Linked DNA regions of Homo sapiens. The protein of the gene in region 2 purifies or fractionates together with the protein of the main gene of each other region. This does not show direct contact. Each region holds a gene or a part of one and is shown on either strand. Other genes may lie near its edges.

Region 1 (3,500 bases), on a different chromosome or scaffold from region 2:
ACTGCTTCTGCTCTTCTAAACTAGATGACAAAACGTCCTTAGTTTCTTTATGGTCAGTATCCATTTGTTCAATATTCTTTTTGAGTTCTGCTATTTCCATGTCTTTCTTTTGATTGAGTTTAATTAAATGCTCATGTTCCAGCTGTAAGGCAGAGGTATTCAAATTACGTGCATTTGACAGTTCTTCAATGGTTTTCTCATACTTGTTTGCTTCTTCCAACAGCCTCTTTTTAGCCCAACACAATTCTGCCTCTATCTCTCCTTTTTCCATTTTTAGAGTCTCCACAATAGTGTTTTTTTCCAGAGAAAGCTGATTGTTACCAGCAAGACATTCTTCTAACTGATGCCTCACATCTTCACATGCTAAAACTAACTTTTCATTTTCCATTTTGACATCAAAAGCAACTTTCTTTAAATTTTCATTGAGCTGTTCTAATTCTGAAAGATTTTGCTTTAAGTTTCTAACTTCAGCTTCTCTTTCTTTAAGTAAGGTATCCTTAAAATTACTATTAGAGTCTTGATTTAGAGACTGCATTAACTCATTCCTTATTCTAGAAAGCTCCTCCTCATTTTGTCTAATATGCTCCTTAAGTTCTAAATTCTCCTTCTGGATGCTTACATTACTTTCTTGTGATTTATTTAGCTGATCTACTAAATTTTCTACTTTGTCCTCAAGTTTCTGCTTGGTTAAATGTAAATCATTTAGGGCCACTTCACTTTGAATTAGCTTTTCTTTCTGTACATCTAACTCTTTAGTAATGTCCATTTTATCATCTTCAAGTTGATGAACTCTCTTTTTTTCATCATTTAGATCTTGTTTCAGTTTACTGATGATGCTATCTCCTTCATTTTGTTGTTTTGATAGCTGATCTTTTATCAAAATCATGTGCTGAAAGAAAAATTTGCATGGTGACTTTACAACATGTTCTCATTTTAGTACTCAAAGAAAATTTTATAAAATCTCATACATAATAGAAAATAATCCTCAAATATTTCTAATCCTTCTTAAAAACATTGTTTTTCTATCAAAAACACCCACTACAAAATTACTTATTATTATTTTACAGCAAACCCATCTTGTCTTTTTTGTTTTTTGAGACGGAGTTTCGCTCTTGTTGCCCAGGCTGGAGTGCAATGGCACAATCTCGGCTCGGCGCAATCTCGGCTCACCGCAACCTCCGCCTCCACCTCTTGAACCTCCCAGGTTCAAGCAATTCTCCTGCCTCAACCTCCCGAGTAGCTGGGATTACAGGCATGCGCCACCACACCCGGCTAATTTTGTATTTTTAGTAGAGATGGGGTTTCTCCATGTTGGTCAGGCTGGTCTCAAACTTCCAACCTCGGGTGATCTGCCTGCCTCAGCCTCCCAAAGTGTTGGGATTACAGGCATGAGCCACTGTGCCTGGCCCCATCTTGTCATTTCTTAAAGCATTTTAGGGATAAGAATTTAAAACCAAAGATGGTAAATAGTATTTTTTTTTTTTTTGAGACAGAGTCGCTCTGTTGCCCAGGCTGGAGTGCAGTGGCATGATCTCGGCTCACTGTAACCTCTGCCTCCTGGGTTCAAGCAATTCTCTGCCTCAGCCTCCCGAGTAGCTGGGATTACAGGCACCTGCCACCACGGCCGGCTAATTTTTTGTATTTTTAGTAGAGACGGGGTTTCACCATCTTGACCAGGCTGGTCTTGAACTCCTGACCTCGTGATCCACCCGTCTCTGCCTCCCAAAGTGCTAGGATGACAGGCATGAGCCACTGCGCCCGGCATGTTGTTTATTTTTAACTCTACACTAGAGTAAGAGTCAACGAACTATAGCCATTGGCCAACTCAGGGATGCTGCCTGTTTTGTAAATAAAATTTTGTTGAAACATGGTCACACTCATTTGTTGGTATCACAACAACAGAGTTGAGTAGACTGAGACAATATGGCCTACAAGGCCAATGATATTTACTATCTAGCACTTTACCAAAAAGGTTTGTCAATCTCTATGAACTAAAATATTAATTAAATCACACCCACCATTTCTGTGTTTAGTTTACTTAGTAGAATGTGCTGCCTTACTGTATTTAATACAGTGTTACCTTTGTAGCTTCTTGATTCTGTCTGTCCAATTCTTCTATCTCAGCTATCAGTGTTTCCTTTTCACTAATACTCTGATTGAGTTCTTGTTCCTTTGCCTCCAAATTAAGTCTTAAGTCATGTAATTCTGAATCCAAACTTATGTCTCTTGTAGCTGTACTTTTAATTACTTCATATTCATTGTTCAATTTTAAAAGTGACATCTGAAGTTCTTCCTGAAATGATAAAAGGAAAAAAGCAACACATACTTTCAATTGGAGACACCAAAAGATTAAAAACATACATAGAAGCAAAACTTGGGATTCTATTTAAGTGCTCTATATTGGAAATAATATTGAACAATACCTCAATAATTGTATGTGAAATTCAACAAACCACATCCTTCATTCATGTGCAATTTTACTTGTAGCTTCAAGCAAAACATTTCTATAACCCTAGACAGATGCAGCGACTGTAAGTTTGTCCTCTAGCACCAAGTTCTTCTTTATAAAAAACGTTCCCATTTGAGAGCCTCTCCTATCCTGCTCCACCGTGGCTACCCTTTATCCATCCCCTGGCCCCACCTACCATACATACATACTTTCCAAAATGTCCGCAAGTCTTTCTGCCTTCCTCACTTCCATTCTCTAACATCCAGTCATCAACAGCCTCAGACTAAATAAAAATATAAAAAATCAACACTCCTTCACCCAAATGTTTAGCCTCTCTAATTAGAAAATAAAAGGTTTCTTTTCTCTTACTAAAGGAATTTCCCTTATTACTTTTGCTTCTGTTAGAACATGGAACTTTTTCTTGACCCTAGAAAGAATCCTCCTTCCTTCCTTTACCTTTTAACCAGACTAGGTTCCCCTCTGTCACACCTGACATTCCTAAAGATAGTATATATACATTTTATAGTCTACTACCTGGTATTTAATGCTTTCTCCAAAATCTCAGAAGTGGGACAGTTCTCTATGCTTCAACATTATTTCAGTCTCTAGTTATGATGTTTGTAATAAACTATATATTAAAGCCTTCTTTCATTGACAGATTTTTAAAAATCAAACCCATATGGAATCTACTTTAAATAGAGTATTGAACCAGGCATGATGGCATTTATCTATAGTCCCAGGAGGCTACTTAGGTGGCTGAGGCAGAAGGATTACTTGAGCCAAGGAGTTCAAGGCTGTAGTGCACTATGATCATGCCATGATCAGCCACAGCACTCTAACCTGGGCAATACAGCAAGACTCTCTCTCTCTAAAAAATAAAATTAAAAAAATAAGAATCTCAAATTCCTTCAAAGAAACAGCCTAATATAAACCTTATAAAAGAAACTCAACATTGCTATGGAGAGTTGGTTGAAAAAACAGAGATCCGATAAAAGCTATACTAGAGTATCTGTATCACAATTCTTATTTCCTTCTAATTCAAAAATTTATT
Region 2 (5,073 bases):
AATGGAGTGATCTCGGCTCACTGCAACCTCCGCCTTTTAGGTTCAAGCAATTCTCCTGCCGCAGCCTCCTGAGTAGCTGGGATTACAGGTGCCTGCCACCACGCCCAGCCAATTTCTGTATTTTTTGTAGAGACGGGCTTTCACCATGTTGGCCAGACTGGTCTCAAACTCCTGACCTCAGGCAATCCACCTGCCTCAGCCTTCCAAAGTGCTGAGATTACAGGCCTGAGCCACTGTGCCCAGCCCAGATATTGCACTTTAACCTACCTTATCCTTCCTTCAGTACCTGGAGAGGACAGCCTCTGGTGCTGAGTTTCCTCACTACCACCATCACTCTCTCCATGACCCCTGCACACATTGCTATGACATTATTTGTGTCCTTACTACTCAGGGCTGCTTCTTGATTTCTCTTCCATAAACTTTTGTTGAGGTTTGCACTATCAATTGCTTATGATTTTTTTTCTCTTGAAAAGATTTCATAGTTGGTCTCAGATATTCATCGAAAAAAAAAAGGATGGAAAAATCAAATCACATCCAATACTCCCATTTTACAGATGAGGAAACTGCTGAAACATGCCCAATGTCATAGAGCCAGTCAATGGGAAAGCCAGAACTAAACTTAGACTTCCAGACTCTTGCTATGTGAACAGTCCAGCCCACAATGCTGCCGATCCTCTTATAAAGTTTAAGCATGCAGTAGTAACACATTAACAGGCATAATCAGTAATTTCTAAATGATTGAGAAACACTGACACCGGGGCTCATGTGCATGAGATATTTCACCAGTGCTTGGATTATAGATCACAAAGTGAGAGAAAGAGCTAGTAGTGAGGCTGGGGGTGGAGAAGAGCCAAATGACCATCAAATGAGGCTGTCTTCAAGGACACAGGCTCCAAGTCTTGCTGGGCTCTGTCATTAATGTGTGCCTCTGACCTCATACGAACTCACAAAGTGGCTGCTTTGTCCAAGGCATCATATCCACATTTCAGGCAAAAAGAAAGGGAGGAGCAAAAGCCAAAAGGCTTTCAGAGAGGTCTCACCTTTCTATTTAAGAAGGAAACCTTCTCAGAAATTCCCACCTGCAGTTCATTCACCAGATCTATGCTACTTGGCCACTCCTAGCTGCAAAGAGGTTGGAAGTTGAGACTTTTGTTTCCAGCTTTGATAAAGTGAAGAATAGGAGAAAGTGAGTTGGATGGTGTTGATGAACCAACTTACAGTACATGCAAACTAGCCTACACAATCACTCTGTTCCATTATCTGCCTGATTTTGTACAGGTTGATAGCCTTGCCTAAAGGGCTTATATTACCTAGTCCTTTCTCTTTGAACTTATTTCAGTTCTCTCTTTAGCCAAACTTTTTTTTTTTTATACCCAATATGCTCTTCCATTTCAAACCTCCACACTTGGTCCAAGGTCCACATGGTGAAGGGCAAGTTACTCCTATAGGCAACAGCCACTGAAGGATTTATGGAAAGGGTGTGAAATGATCAGATTCGTATTTTGGAAGGACTGCTGTGGAGAACATACCTGGGCAGGAGCATGGGGTGCCATTAGGAGGCTGCTAGGGTTATCTAGTGGGGGCGCTGGTGAAATAGCAGGGCTGGAGAAAATAGCAGGGATGGAGAGATAGGTGGATTGGAGAAGTGTTTCAGAGATGAGATAGGTAGGACCTGATCACCAACGTGGCTAATTTCAAAGAAATGTTATTTGCCCAGTGTTTTGCAGCTATGAATTCAAACCTAGGCCTTCTTGTTGCAGGTCCAAGGGAAGATCTCATGGCATTGTCTCATGGTACTCAAAGCCCTGCGGGCCTCTCTAAATCCCCACTGTGGCACCAGGAGCCTGTGCCTCGCAGACCGCTGACCCCAGGAAGTAATGGACAATGAGGCGCAGCTGCTGCTGCCTCTCTGGGTTTGTGCTGAGGCCACCTTCTCGGGGCCGTTACAAGCCAGTGCCTGAGCATGCATGCTTACTAAGGCAGACTCATTTCTGGGAGACATAGACCTCCTCCCCAACGGATGACTGGCTAGAGAAGCTCCTTATTACCTTGCTGAAGTTCTCTTAGACTGCACAGCTGTCTGGGATGCTTCCACTCAACCTGGTTTCCTTCTTTTCCTCCCTCGCGGGTGGACTTGCATCGAGGTCTGATGGCTCTCACAGCCTTACCTAGTTCTCTCCTCATTCTCTCTCACAACAGCATTTCCCCTAATAAAATCCATGCATATTTAATTCTATCTTGGAGTCTGCTTCTTGGAGGAGCAGACTAACACAATTATGTAAGAACTGGCTCCAGGGATCAGCTTATAATCACTGACTTCCTCTGAGTTTGTCCACATTTTTTAGGCGATGGGGAAGCTTGGCTTTAACAGTGCCTGACCTACTTTGATGCAATGAATTTTTGCTTTTTTACTTCTTACACAAAAGATAAACATGGAATGTTTATCATTTCAACATGGAATGACAGTTTCTAAAGTATAACTTTAGAAAGATATACTTTATCCTCCTTGAATCCTAAGCATGGTGCACAAAAGCTATTTTACAACACTGTCATTAGTGATATTGGGTGTATGGCCCTGTAAAGCCTCCAGTCAAAGGTTTTGCTAGGAATCTTTGCCAACCGAAGAAGCACTTCCAGAACAAATGCCGAAGCACAGAGCAGCCTTTCTATGCACTCTGAAAACCTCCTCTTAGCTGGCCTTCCTGTCTTTCTGGGACCAGATTTTGGGGTCAAAGCCTTAACATTTGATAAACTGTAATCTCAAACTAAAACAGATTTCTTTGAGAAAATGAGAGCAAACACGGCCTGAAATGGTAAAACAAGGCACCTCTCAATATATCCAATGTGAAAACCATACATGTTGGCTTCCTTAGTCCAAAAGTTAGAATCAAAATGTTGATTTTTGATTAGCAGAGACACAAACAGCATATTCAGGAAGCCATTGTTTTCAAGAGCCAGGAAGAAAACTCTTCACTTAGGATACCGTAAGAATCCTTTTTTCTTGGGCTACTTTATAAAACATACATACCACAGAGTTTCAGGCTCTTTAAAAACCCATCTTTACACTGATCTAACTGCTCAGATTAATTTTGAAACAGGCAACGTGCAGAAAAAAACAACATCTAAAAATTAAACCTCCCCTCTTTCCGTTCTAAAGTTTCATTTCAAAAGTATTAGGAAATCTTACTTTAAGCAGCGAGCTGATGGCGTTCTCCAGAACTCGGTTTGAGCAACAAACTTGAGACAACCTTTGTCTGGAAGCAAGTCAAGCGCTTAATAATGCATGCTGGGATTTGTAGTTTCCCTGCTTTCAGAGTTTAGTGGCTCCATCCATACACTTTATAAATGTATGTGCTGCCATCTAGTGGAATTCAGGTAGAACTATGAATTCCAAGTGGAAGGTGAAAAGTGGAAAAGCACCTTAGAGCTTACTTAGGATGCGGAAATCATTTCCTTCACTTCAGTCTCTCCACTTCTCTGTTTTGTTTATGCCTACTATATGCGGTGCCAGGGTAGACGAGATTGGCTGAGCTGGAAACTGCGTGTGGAAGATAGCAGAGCAACAAAATAGAGGGAACCCAGGTCACTGAAAATTCTGGAGCCTTCCTGTCACTTGGCCTGGATTGTTTTAAGGGAGAGAAATAAAAAAAAAAATCCTTTTTGTTTGAGATACAGTTGTGATTTTTATTTTTTCATGCTCAGAATATTCTAACACTAATGCACATTTAGTGGCAGAATGCCAGGAGCCTTTTACTACACTGGGAATGGGGTTGGGGAGAACGTGAAACTTGGATGACAGGGTGGAGGCTTAAAAGGGAACATGTTAACAGCGAAAAACCCCAGTTTGGCTGAAGAGAACAGAGATATAAGGTCAAAAAGAAAGGACTAGATCTCATGAGCCCTCTAGGTTAGGATAGCAACATGTGCTTTATCTGTAGTGCCAGTGAGCAGAGTGATTGTGTAGGCTACTTGTACATGTACTGTATAAATTGGTTTCCTCAGCACCCATCCAACTCACTTTCCCCTTTTTTCACTTGTCAAAGCTGGAAAACAAAAGTCTCTACTTCATAGCCTTGTTTGCTGCTAGGGGTGGCCAAGCAGCATAGATGTTGCCAATGAAATGCAGGTGGGAATTTCTGAGGAGGGCCTCCTTCTTAAATAGAAAAGTAAGCCCTTCTGAAAGGCTTTTAGCTTTTGCTCCTCCCTTTCTTTTTGCCTGGAATGAAGATAGGATGCCGTGGGACAGAGCAGCCATTTAGTGAGTTCATCTGAGGCCAGAGGCACACATTAACGACAGGGACCAGCAAGAGAAGGAGCCTGCGGCCCTGATGACAGCCTCAAGGCAACAACTCCTCTGGACTTCTTATGTGAGGACAATAAACTTTAGTGTTTTTCACGTTTTTTGTTACATGGAGCTAAGTGATTTCTAACAGTCACAGGGGATAAGAACAAAGACTGTGGCGTCAGTAAGACTAGAGCAAGTCCCATATCTCTCTCTCACTAGCTAAGTGAGTAAATCACTTAAATCTCTGAACCTCTTATGTTTCTCATCTGTAAAATGAAGGTAAAATAGCACCTACCTCAGGGATGTGGTGAGGAGGAACGACTAAGCCTGTGAATCCATCAGCACAATGTTTGCCACACAGGTGCTTAATACATGTTAGTGATTCTTATGATGAAGACATTGTTGGAGAAATTTAATTATAATGGATGGTAAAAGTTGCGCTTTTTAATGTTCTTTTAAAAACTGGACTTAGTTTCTGCATGTGTCTATATGAGGTCTATGGTAAAATTGTCCCTCCTTGTTCATTGTTTCAGCAACTTCTAATGCTGGCTCTAACAATCTGTAATCACATCTAGCTTTGTTCCTGCTTTACTAATAATGCCCTTTGACTTTTGAGGCTTTTGGAACAGACTTTATGAGAGTTCTCTAATCAAAGCCAACTCCAATGCTTCTTGATGTAGCTTTCTTCAGCATCCCTCTGTAATCTTCAGCAACAATGCTTACTTGATAACAGCCTAAGTCACATGGTATTGCAAATACTTGCTTACCCATTAGTATTCTCAGCAGAC
Region 3 (4,475 bases), on a different chromosome or scaffold from region 2:
GAGGTAGCATAGAGAGGCTGACAATAAAAGTAACTTCTATTGGATGATGCTGACTAGACTTGACCCTTATATTAGCCTGGAATCACCTCCATTTTTGAACTGATAAAATGCCCTCAGTGCAGACCAGATATCTGGTGGTCATCACAGACAAAGATCACACGGGAATAGCATGTCACTTCCAAAAATTGTATTAATAGCATCATGCTGTACCTGTCACATGACACTGTATCATACAGGTGAAAGAGCTCAACATGATCATGCTATAACTCTGGAAAAATGTCCCAGATCAGAAGAAATTGTTGCTTCTCTTCTAATACAGTTACAGGAATGGAGAGGGTAGTTAGGATGGTGCCTGTTTCTTAGGCCTGGGATAATTCTCTTCCTCTGCATTTGGATGGTGTTGCAGAGTCTAGACCTGGAAAAATGTCTAGATTGGTATAATGTAAATTCATAAATGGGGACTGCGCACGTTACTGGAAGCTGGTTCTGGAACTGGTTAGCCTTGGGATTGAGTCCTATGGTGTGATCTTAGACAATTTCCTTACCCTCTCTGAGCAGTGAGACTGCTGCCTCTGCACCTTATACTTATGAGGATGGAGATAATGTATGTAAAAGGGCTAAGAACAGTATCTGGCACATTGTTAAGCCCTTAATAAATAGTTGCTGTCTTCATTACCACGCAGCACTGTGTTTAGGACAAGGTTGTCAAGGTCCCCTTTTCATACATTTTTCAGCACAGTCTATTACAAATATTTTCACAATAATAATATAAGCTTAGTAAGAAAATACTTCATCTACAGGACAATTTGCTAGAACTCAAAAGATAAAAGCAATCCTTGCCCTTTTTTCTAGACCACCTCGTTTCTGCTAATAAAAACCCATGTTCTTGTCTTTTAAGGGTTCCTGAAGTCAACATCAAAATCAACAAATGTCATGGGTACTGTTTAGCTCTGGTCACTACACCTTCCCTAATACAGTTAGGCCAGATTCTTGTTGATTATTATTTTTCTAGCTTTTCTAGCTTTCGGGAATTAACTCTGGAAAGTTCTGTGATTAATAGTTCATTTCTGTCTGCAGGTTGGCTGTGGTGTGGGAAACACAGTCTTTCCAATTTTACAAACGAACAAGTAAGTATGTTGTAAAAGTTTATGATAGCAAAGAAGATAAAAGTGAAGGTTGGCTGGGCGCATTGCTTCACGACAGTAATCCCAGCACTTTGGGAGGCCAAAGCAGGATTGCTTGAGGCCAGGAGTGTGAGACCAGCCAGGGCAATGTAGCAAGAAAAAAAAGTAAAGATTTTTTCAAAACTTGCTGCATCAAACTATCAATAATGGTTATTGGAAAATATGGATTATGTCAGATTCAGATTTCTACATTGTTCATTTATGGATTGTTTTAATTTGATTATCTTTATCATTTGGAAAATTAGACTTAAAACTTGCTAGTGTTAACGTTTAGTGCCTTCTTCTTCTTCTAAGGAACAAATGTGTTCAACTTTTCCATTCTCATGATCTCTGAAGAACAGTCAGTGGCTGAGTTGTCATTACCCCCATGGTAGAGTTGAGAAAGCTATCATACATGAAGATGTCTCCTGTTCTGATGAAAACACACTGGTTTTGTGTACTTAAGCAGAACGCTTCTGACACCAAATGTGCAGGGTTTTTGCCAACACTGACCAATTCAACAACAGCTGGGTGTCCTACAATTCAATTCTGACACTGTCTACTTGGAGTTGGTATCAGATCCCACAAGTTAAGGGTTCGGTCCCAGAAGACTGCCCCCCACTTCAGATGCCAGTTGTGAATCTGGCCCTCCGTGTTTCTGCCCTACAGGCTGTAAATCAGGGGAGCCCTGTCTCCAGTTCAATAATTTCCTAGAATGGCTCACAGAACTCAGGGAAACACTTTACTTACATTTATGTGTTTGTTATGAAGGATACAGATTAACAGCCAGCTGAAGAAGTAATTAGAGTGGGGTTCAGAGGATCTCACGCTCAGGAGCTTTGACCCTGAGGAGCTCAGTGCAGTGTTCTCCTAGCACACGGATGTGTTCACCAACCTGGAAGCTCATCAAGGGTTTTTTTTTAGTTTTGAGACAAGCTCTTGTTCTGTCATCCCGACTAGAGCACAGTGGTGTGCCCATAGCACACTGCAGGCTCAAACTCCTAGGCTCAAGCAATCGTCTCACCTCAGCCTCCCAAGTAGCTGGGACTACAGACACATGCCACCATACCCAGCTAATTTTTGTTTATTTTTTGTAGAGACAGGGTCTCACTTTGTTTCCCAGACTGGTCTCAAACTCCTGGCTCAAGTGATCCTCTTGCCTCGGCCTCCCAAAGTGCTGGAATTACATGCATAAGTCACCGTTCCCAGCCTCAAGAGTTTTTATACAGCTAGGACACAGACTTATGGGAAAATTAATTTTAAAAGGAGAAGAAGAAAATAGTTTTCATACAACATAATCTGCATTTCTATTCAGGACATTGGTGGGTGAAGCTGAAAGTTCCAATCAGTTTGCCCTTACTAGTGTTGGCCCCACCCCAGGTCATCTCATTAACATAAATTCAGTGTGGTCCTGAGGGAGTTCATCATGAATAACAAAAGATACAGAGTCTTGCTTCATCTCCCAGGTTGGAGTACAGTGGCACAATCTCGACTCATTGCAACCTCCGCCTTCCGGGTTCAAGTGATTCACCTGCCTCAGCCTCCCTAGTAGCTGGGATTAAGGGTGCATGCCACCACACACAACTAATTTTTATATTTTTAGTAGAGACAGGGTTTCACCACATTGGCCAGGCTGGTCTCAGACTCCTGACCTCAGGTGATCTACCTGCCTCGGCCTCCCAAAGTGCTGGGATTATATGTGTGAGCCGCCGCGCCCAGCCTGCTGAGGAAATTCTTAAGGTTTTTGGAACTCTGTGCCTGGAACCACAAAGACCAACACCAAATATATTTATTATACCATACCTGTTTTGTTTTGTTTGAGACGGAGTCTTGCTCTGTTGCCCAGGCTGGAGTGCAGTGGCGTAATCTTGGCTCACTGCAACCTCTGCCTCCTGGGTTCAAGCGATTCTCCTGCCTCAGCCTCCCAAATACCCGGGATTACAGGCATGCGCCACAATGCCCAGCTAATTTTTGTATTTTTAGTAGAGATGGGGTTTCGCCGTGTCGGCTAGGCTGGTCTCGAACTCCTGACCTCAAGTGATCCACCCACCTCAGCCTCCCAAAGTGCTGGGATTACAGGCGTGAGCCATGGCTCCTGGCCCTATAGCTGTTTTTAAACCCCTTGTGGAAATGACATTCCAGTTCTGTATTCATTACTGGAATCCACTGTTTCTCAAAGGTTTCATATAATATATACTTTGCCAATTTAGCCCACAGTATTCATTAACAGGATTAAGTAAAACATTAGCCTCATTACTAATATACATTTAAATATTTCTACAATTTGTTCTCAGAAATTTCTAAGAAAATGGCAAGTCCTAGTACTAACACTGAAGAAAAGAGATTGTTCTACTCTTGAAGTTACAGTCTGAGGAACCCACCTCAAATGGGAGATTGACTTAGCTTCAAGTTATGGCCATTAATCATCAATATCATCAATGAATGTAAAACTGAATGTAGATGGCATCTTTGCCACAGCCTCTTTATGCCATTTAAATAAGATCGCTGTGTTCAGTATCTTACTAGAACCCACTTGTTCATGTAATTCACTGGCTTAGAATTGGCATGTTTTCTACTGCCTGTGAATCAGGTTTAAATTGTTGGGCATAGTTTTCAAAGTCCTCTACAAGAGTGTGCCCTATAAAGTATGTCCTCTTATCCCTCAGTGCACTGGTCACACCTTGCATGTCTTCCCCTGACTCCGTACCTTTCCAAAATGTCCTTTGTTTCTACTACTCTATTTCCTTCCTTCCTCACATTCAGATCAGAAGCATCTAGAAAACTTCCCTAGTTGTTATCGTCCAGCTGCCTCACTCTGCAGTCTTTTTCGAGACAGTCTCACTCTGTCACCCAGGCTGGAGTGCAGTGATTCGATCTCGGCTAGCCGCAACCTCCGCCTCCCAGGTTCAAGCAATTATCCTGCCTCAGCCTCCCGAGTAGTTGGGATTACAGGTGCCCACCACCACGCCCAGCTAATTTTTGTATTATTGATTGATTGATTGGTTGATTGAGACGGAGTTTTGCTCTTGTTGCCCAGGCTGGAGTGCAGTGGTGCGATCTTGGCTCACCGCAACCTCTGCCTCCTGGGATCAAGTGATTCTCCTGCCTCAGCCTCCCAAGTAGCTGGGATTACAGGCATGCGCCACCATACCCAGCTAATTTTATGTTTTTAGTAGAGACGGGGTTTCTCCATGTTGGTCAGGCTGGTCTCGAACTCCTGACTTCAGGTGATCCACCCGCCTCAGCCTCCCAAAGTGCTGGGATTACAGGTGTGTGCCACTGTACCCGGCTAATTTCTGTACTTTTTAGTAG
Region 4 (4,149 bases), on a different chromosome or scaffold from region 2:
TAGGTTATACACTGACAATTGATGAACAGTGAGTTGCAGTCAAAGAATGCTGCCCATTTCAGAATGTATACCTTCAAAACAAGGAAAATATGAAATAAAAAATTGTACTTGCTGTGTCTAAAGTCTTTAAAATTTCTAGAATTTTTGAGAAAGCCATCTTCTTGCCTCAGCCTCCCAAGCATCTAGGACTACAGGTGTGAGCCACAGTGCCCACCCAACATGTTTTTTTTTTTTTTTTTTGAGATGGAGTCTTGCTCTGTCGTCCAGGCTGGAGTGCAATAGCACGGTCTTGGCTCACTGCAACCTCCGCCTCGCGGGTTCAAACAATTCTTCTGCCTCAGCGATTACAGGCATTCGCCACCAGGCCCAGCTAATTTTGTATTTTTAGTAGAGATGGGGTTTCACCATGTTGGCCAGGCTGGTCTCGAATTCCTGACCTCGTGATCCACCCGCCTTGGCCTCCCAAAGTGCTGGGATTACAGGCGTGAGCCACCGTGCCCAGCCCAACATGTGCTTTCATCATAAAAAATATTTCTGACCTGAGTGTGGTGGCTCACACTTGTATTCCCAACACTCTGGGAGGCTGAGGTGCAATTACTTGAAGCCAGTTCTCCCTATCCTTTTATTCTAGTCAAGCAAGGTAGTGAAGGATTTTCTTACCTAGAAGAGGTTCATTTAGTTCCTAGTGTGGTGTGCTCTCTCATTAACTTCTGTTCTAGAATAAGTGCAATTGAGAAGGCAGCTCTGTATTCTACCCTGCTTGACTGAAATATAGGGACAGGGGAAAAACTTTATTCTAATTCTGTAAATCATTTGTACAATAATGTGTGTGTGTATAAAAGGGTCTAATTCTATAAATTATTTGTAAAATAAGTTAATATGTTATGTGTGTATGTGTGTGTGTGTGTGTGTGTGTGTGTGTGTGTGTGTGTATAAAAGGGTCCACTGGATCTAGATAGTAAATGATGTACTGAGAGTTAAGACAGGCCTTTGCCTAAGACCAACAATCAACTGGACAAAGTATTACAACTCTGTTGTTTCTGATTTTGAAAAAAGGCTAGCCCATAATTTCTATAAGGAATTAAACATGTTTATAAATTAGAAACCTTTAGATAAATTTACAAGCTGTGATTTTAAGAATATGTCTATTCTAATGCATCTATAACAACCACAACCTACTCCATCTCATAGTAGGTCTCAACCTACTCCAAAACCCCATCTCATCTGTGTTTCCTTTTCTTTTACCTAACCAGCTGCTGCTGTTTCCACTCTTCAATTCGCTTCTGTGCAGTTGATTCCCGATCCTCTTCACTGGAACTAGAATTGTCCTCTTCATCTAACTCACGCTGGATACTCTGCCACTTTTTTACCAAAGATGGCATTTTGGTCTTACTCTTCTTTGCCTGTAACAAAGGTTAAAGGTCAAAAGGAATAGAAAACATAAAATAAGGATAAGCGTCCTCTACAATGGAGGTCAGGATCCTTTTCCCAGTTCTAAAGAATATGCACACTTTAAAAAAGAAAGTAAATACCATTCTAAGTTCTTGCCATAAATTTCTTACCAATTATAAACAAAAAGGCTTGGTTAAAAATCTATAAAGCAGGCCAGGCGCGGTGGCTCAAGCCTGTAATCCCAGCACTTTGGGAGGCTGAGGCGGGCGGATCACAAGGTCAGGAGATCGAGACCATCCTGGCTAACATGGTGAAACCCTGTCTCTACTAAAAATACAAAAAATTAGCCAGACGTGGTGGCGGGCGCCTGTAGTCTCAGCTACTCGGAAGGTTGAGATAGGAGAATGGCATGAACCTGGGAGGCGGATCTTGCAGTGAGCCGAGATCACCACTGCACTCCAGCCTGGGCTACAGAGGGAGACTCCGTCTCAAAAAAATAAATAAATAAATAAATAAATAAATAAAATCTATAAAGCTTTGTAAATGCGGTATTTTATAAAATTATGTCATATAAACTTCCTTTAACCTCCCTATCCTATGTAATTCAAAATATTGCCTTTATCGCGTCTCAGAATTACAGTGTTCCCGTTTTCAAATTTTAAATAGATGCAGTGTTCCTCCCAAGTGATTTAAAAAAAAAAAAAAAAAGCTAAAAAATAAAGCTGGAAAGAGCAACAAAGCAAACTGCCATATTAGCCGGGGGCGGTGGCGGCGGCGGTGGGCGACTGTAGTCCCAGCTGCTTGGGAGGCTGAGGCAGGAGAATCGCTTCAACCCGGGAGTCAGAGTTTGCAGTGAGCCAAGATTGCACCATTGCACTGCAGCCTGGGCAACACAGTGAGACTCTGTCTCAAATAAATAAATAGCCATAATTAAATATGAAAAAAAGCAAACAGATTTTTAAAAATATCGGCTGGGCACGATGGCTCATGCCTGTAATCACTTTGGGAGGCCGAGGCGGGAGGATCACGAGGTCAGGTGATCGAGACCATCCTAGCTAACACGGTGAAACCCCGTCTCTACTAAAAATACAAAACATAAGCCTGGCGTGGTGGTGGGCGCCTGTAGTCCCAGCTACTCTGCACTTCAGCCTGGGCGACAGAGCAAGACTCCATCTCAAAAATAAATAAATAAATAAATAAAAATAAATAAATAAATAAAATAAAACATCAATGGGGCGAGGCATGGTGGGTCACACCTGTAATCTCAGCACTTTGGGAGGCCAAGGTGGGTGGATCACTTGAGGCCAGGAGTTTGAGACCAGCCTGGCCAACATGACAAAAACCCACCTCTACTAAAAATATAAAAAATACAAAAATTAGCCTGGCATGGTGGTGCACATGCCTGTCGCCCCAGCTACTCAGGAGACTGAGGCATGAGAAGTGCTTGAACTGGGAGGCAGAGGTTGCAGTGAGCTGAGAGCATGCCACTGCACACCAGCCTGGGTGACAGAGACTCTGTCTCCCCTCCCCCTGCCAAAAAAAATCAATGATACAGTTAGTTCTAAGAGAAGGTATAATGATATAATATTTTTTCTTTTCGCTTACCTTCATTGTCTAAATCGTCTATAATAAACATACAGATTTTTTGCCCCTTTTCTTGAGACTCCGTTTCAAAAGGTGGTATTTGTAAATGTGGTATTTTATAAAATCAGGTCATATAAATTTCCTTTAACCTCCCTACCCTATGCAATTCAAAATATTGCCTTTATCTCGTCTCCTCAGAATTACAGCGTTCCCATTTTCAAATTTTAAATAGATGCAGCATTCCTATCAAATGATTAAAAAAAAAAAAAAAGCTAAAAAATAAAGCTGGAAAGACCAACAAAGCAAACTGCCATATTAGCTGGGGGTGGTGGCGGATGTCTCTGACTCAAAAAAAAAAAAAAAAAAAAAAAAAAAAAAAAAAAAAAAAAAAAAAGGAAAAAAAAATATTTCTCATAGATTTATTTTTCCCTTATCTACTCCCAAGCCACCCCCTGCCAGAAGAAAGGTTCTACAAAAGCAGAGGGTTTTTTTTTTTTTTGTCTGTTTGATGTACTGCTAAATCCTAAGCCCCTAGGGAGAGTATCTGACAAATATATTAGATATTGATAAGACCAATTTTTATCCCCGTTTTTCTTTTTTTTTTTTAAGACAAAGTTTCACTTTTGTCACCCAGGCTGGAATGCAGTGGTGCGATCTCAGCTCACTGCAACCTCAGCCTCCCAGGTTCAAGCGACTCTCCCGCCTCAGCCTCTTTAATAGCTTATCCCTATGCTTTTTAAGAGAAGCAGTTGTATGTTTGAAGACCCGTCTGGGTGATGCTGGCTCAACAAGTAGGAGTTGACATGACTGAGTGCTGTACTCATGTGAGGACTAGGTATGGGGGCCCAAGCTGATTCTCCTCCCAGCACTTGAGACAAACAGATTTCTTAAATAAGGTCCCCCCACTGAGAAAGTAAGCTGGACATTTCAATTTCTTTTTTCTTTTTTTGAGATGGAGTCTTGCTCTGTCACCCAGGCTGGAGTGCAGTGCTGTGATCCTGGCTCACTGCAACCTCTGCCTCCTGGGTTCAAGCGATTCTCCTGCCTCAGCCTCCCAAGTAGCAGGGATTACAGGTGCGTGCCACCAGGCCCAGCTAATTTTTGTATTTTTAGTAGAGACAGGGTTTCACCATGTTGGGCAGGCTGGTCTCGAACTCCTGACCTCAGGTGATC

The links.
Region 1: the proteins of BDH2 (region 2) and TRIP11 purify together in Homo sapiens (affinity purification with mass spectrometry; one large-scale study listed by BioGRID and IntAct). This does not show direct contact.
Region 3: the proteins of BDH2 (region 2) and METTL2B purify together in Homo sapiens (affinity purification with mass spectrometry; one large-scale study listed by BioGRID and IntAct). This does not show direct contact.
Region 4: the proteins of BDH2 (region 2) and FNBP4 purify together in Homo sapiens (affinity purification with mass spectrometry; one large-scale study listed by BioGRID and IntAct). This does not show direct contact.

The regions. Positions count from the first base shown.
Region 1 is NC_000014.9:92,005,560-92,009,059, forward strand, and holds part of TRIP11 (thyroid receptor-interacting protein 11), read right to left. Parts: intron 2,294-3,500; coding exon 2,081-2,293; intron 890-2,080; coding exon 1-889.
Region 2 is NC_000004.12:103,096,596-103,101,668, forward strand, and holds the start of BDH2 (dehydrogenase/reductase SDR family member 6), read right to left. Parts: upstream 3,240-5,073; 5' UTR 3,188-3,239; intron 2,208-3,187; exon of another isoform or gene 2,049-2,207; intron 1,160-2,048; exon of another isoform or gene 1,041-1,159; intron 1-1,040. UniProt on the Homo sapiens protein: NAD(H)-dependent dehydrogenase/reductase with a preference for cyclic substrates. Catalyzes stereoselective conversion of 4-oxo-L-proline to cis-4-hydroxy-L-proline, likely a detoxification mechanism for ketoprolines.
Region 3 is NC_000007.14:128,479,570-128,484,044, forward strand, and holds part of METTL2B (tRNA N(3)-cytidine methyltransferase METTL2B), read left to right. Parts: intron 1-1,077; coding exon 1,078-1,127; intron 1,128-4,475. UniProt on the Homo sapiens protein: S-adenosyl-L-methionine-dependent methyltransferase that mediates N(3)-methylcytidine modification of residue 32 of the tRNA anticodon loop of tRNA(Thr)(UGU) and tRNA(Arg)(CCU).
Region 4 is NC_000011.10:47,718,684-47,722,832, forward strand, and holds part of FNBP4 (formin-binding protein 4), read right to left. Parts: intron 1,404-4,149; coding exon 1,246-1,403; intron 1-1,245.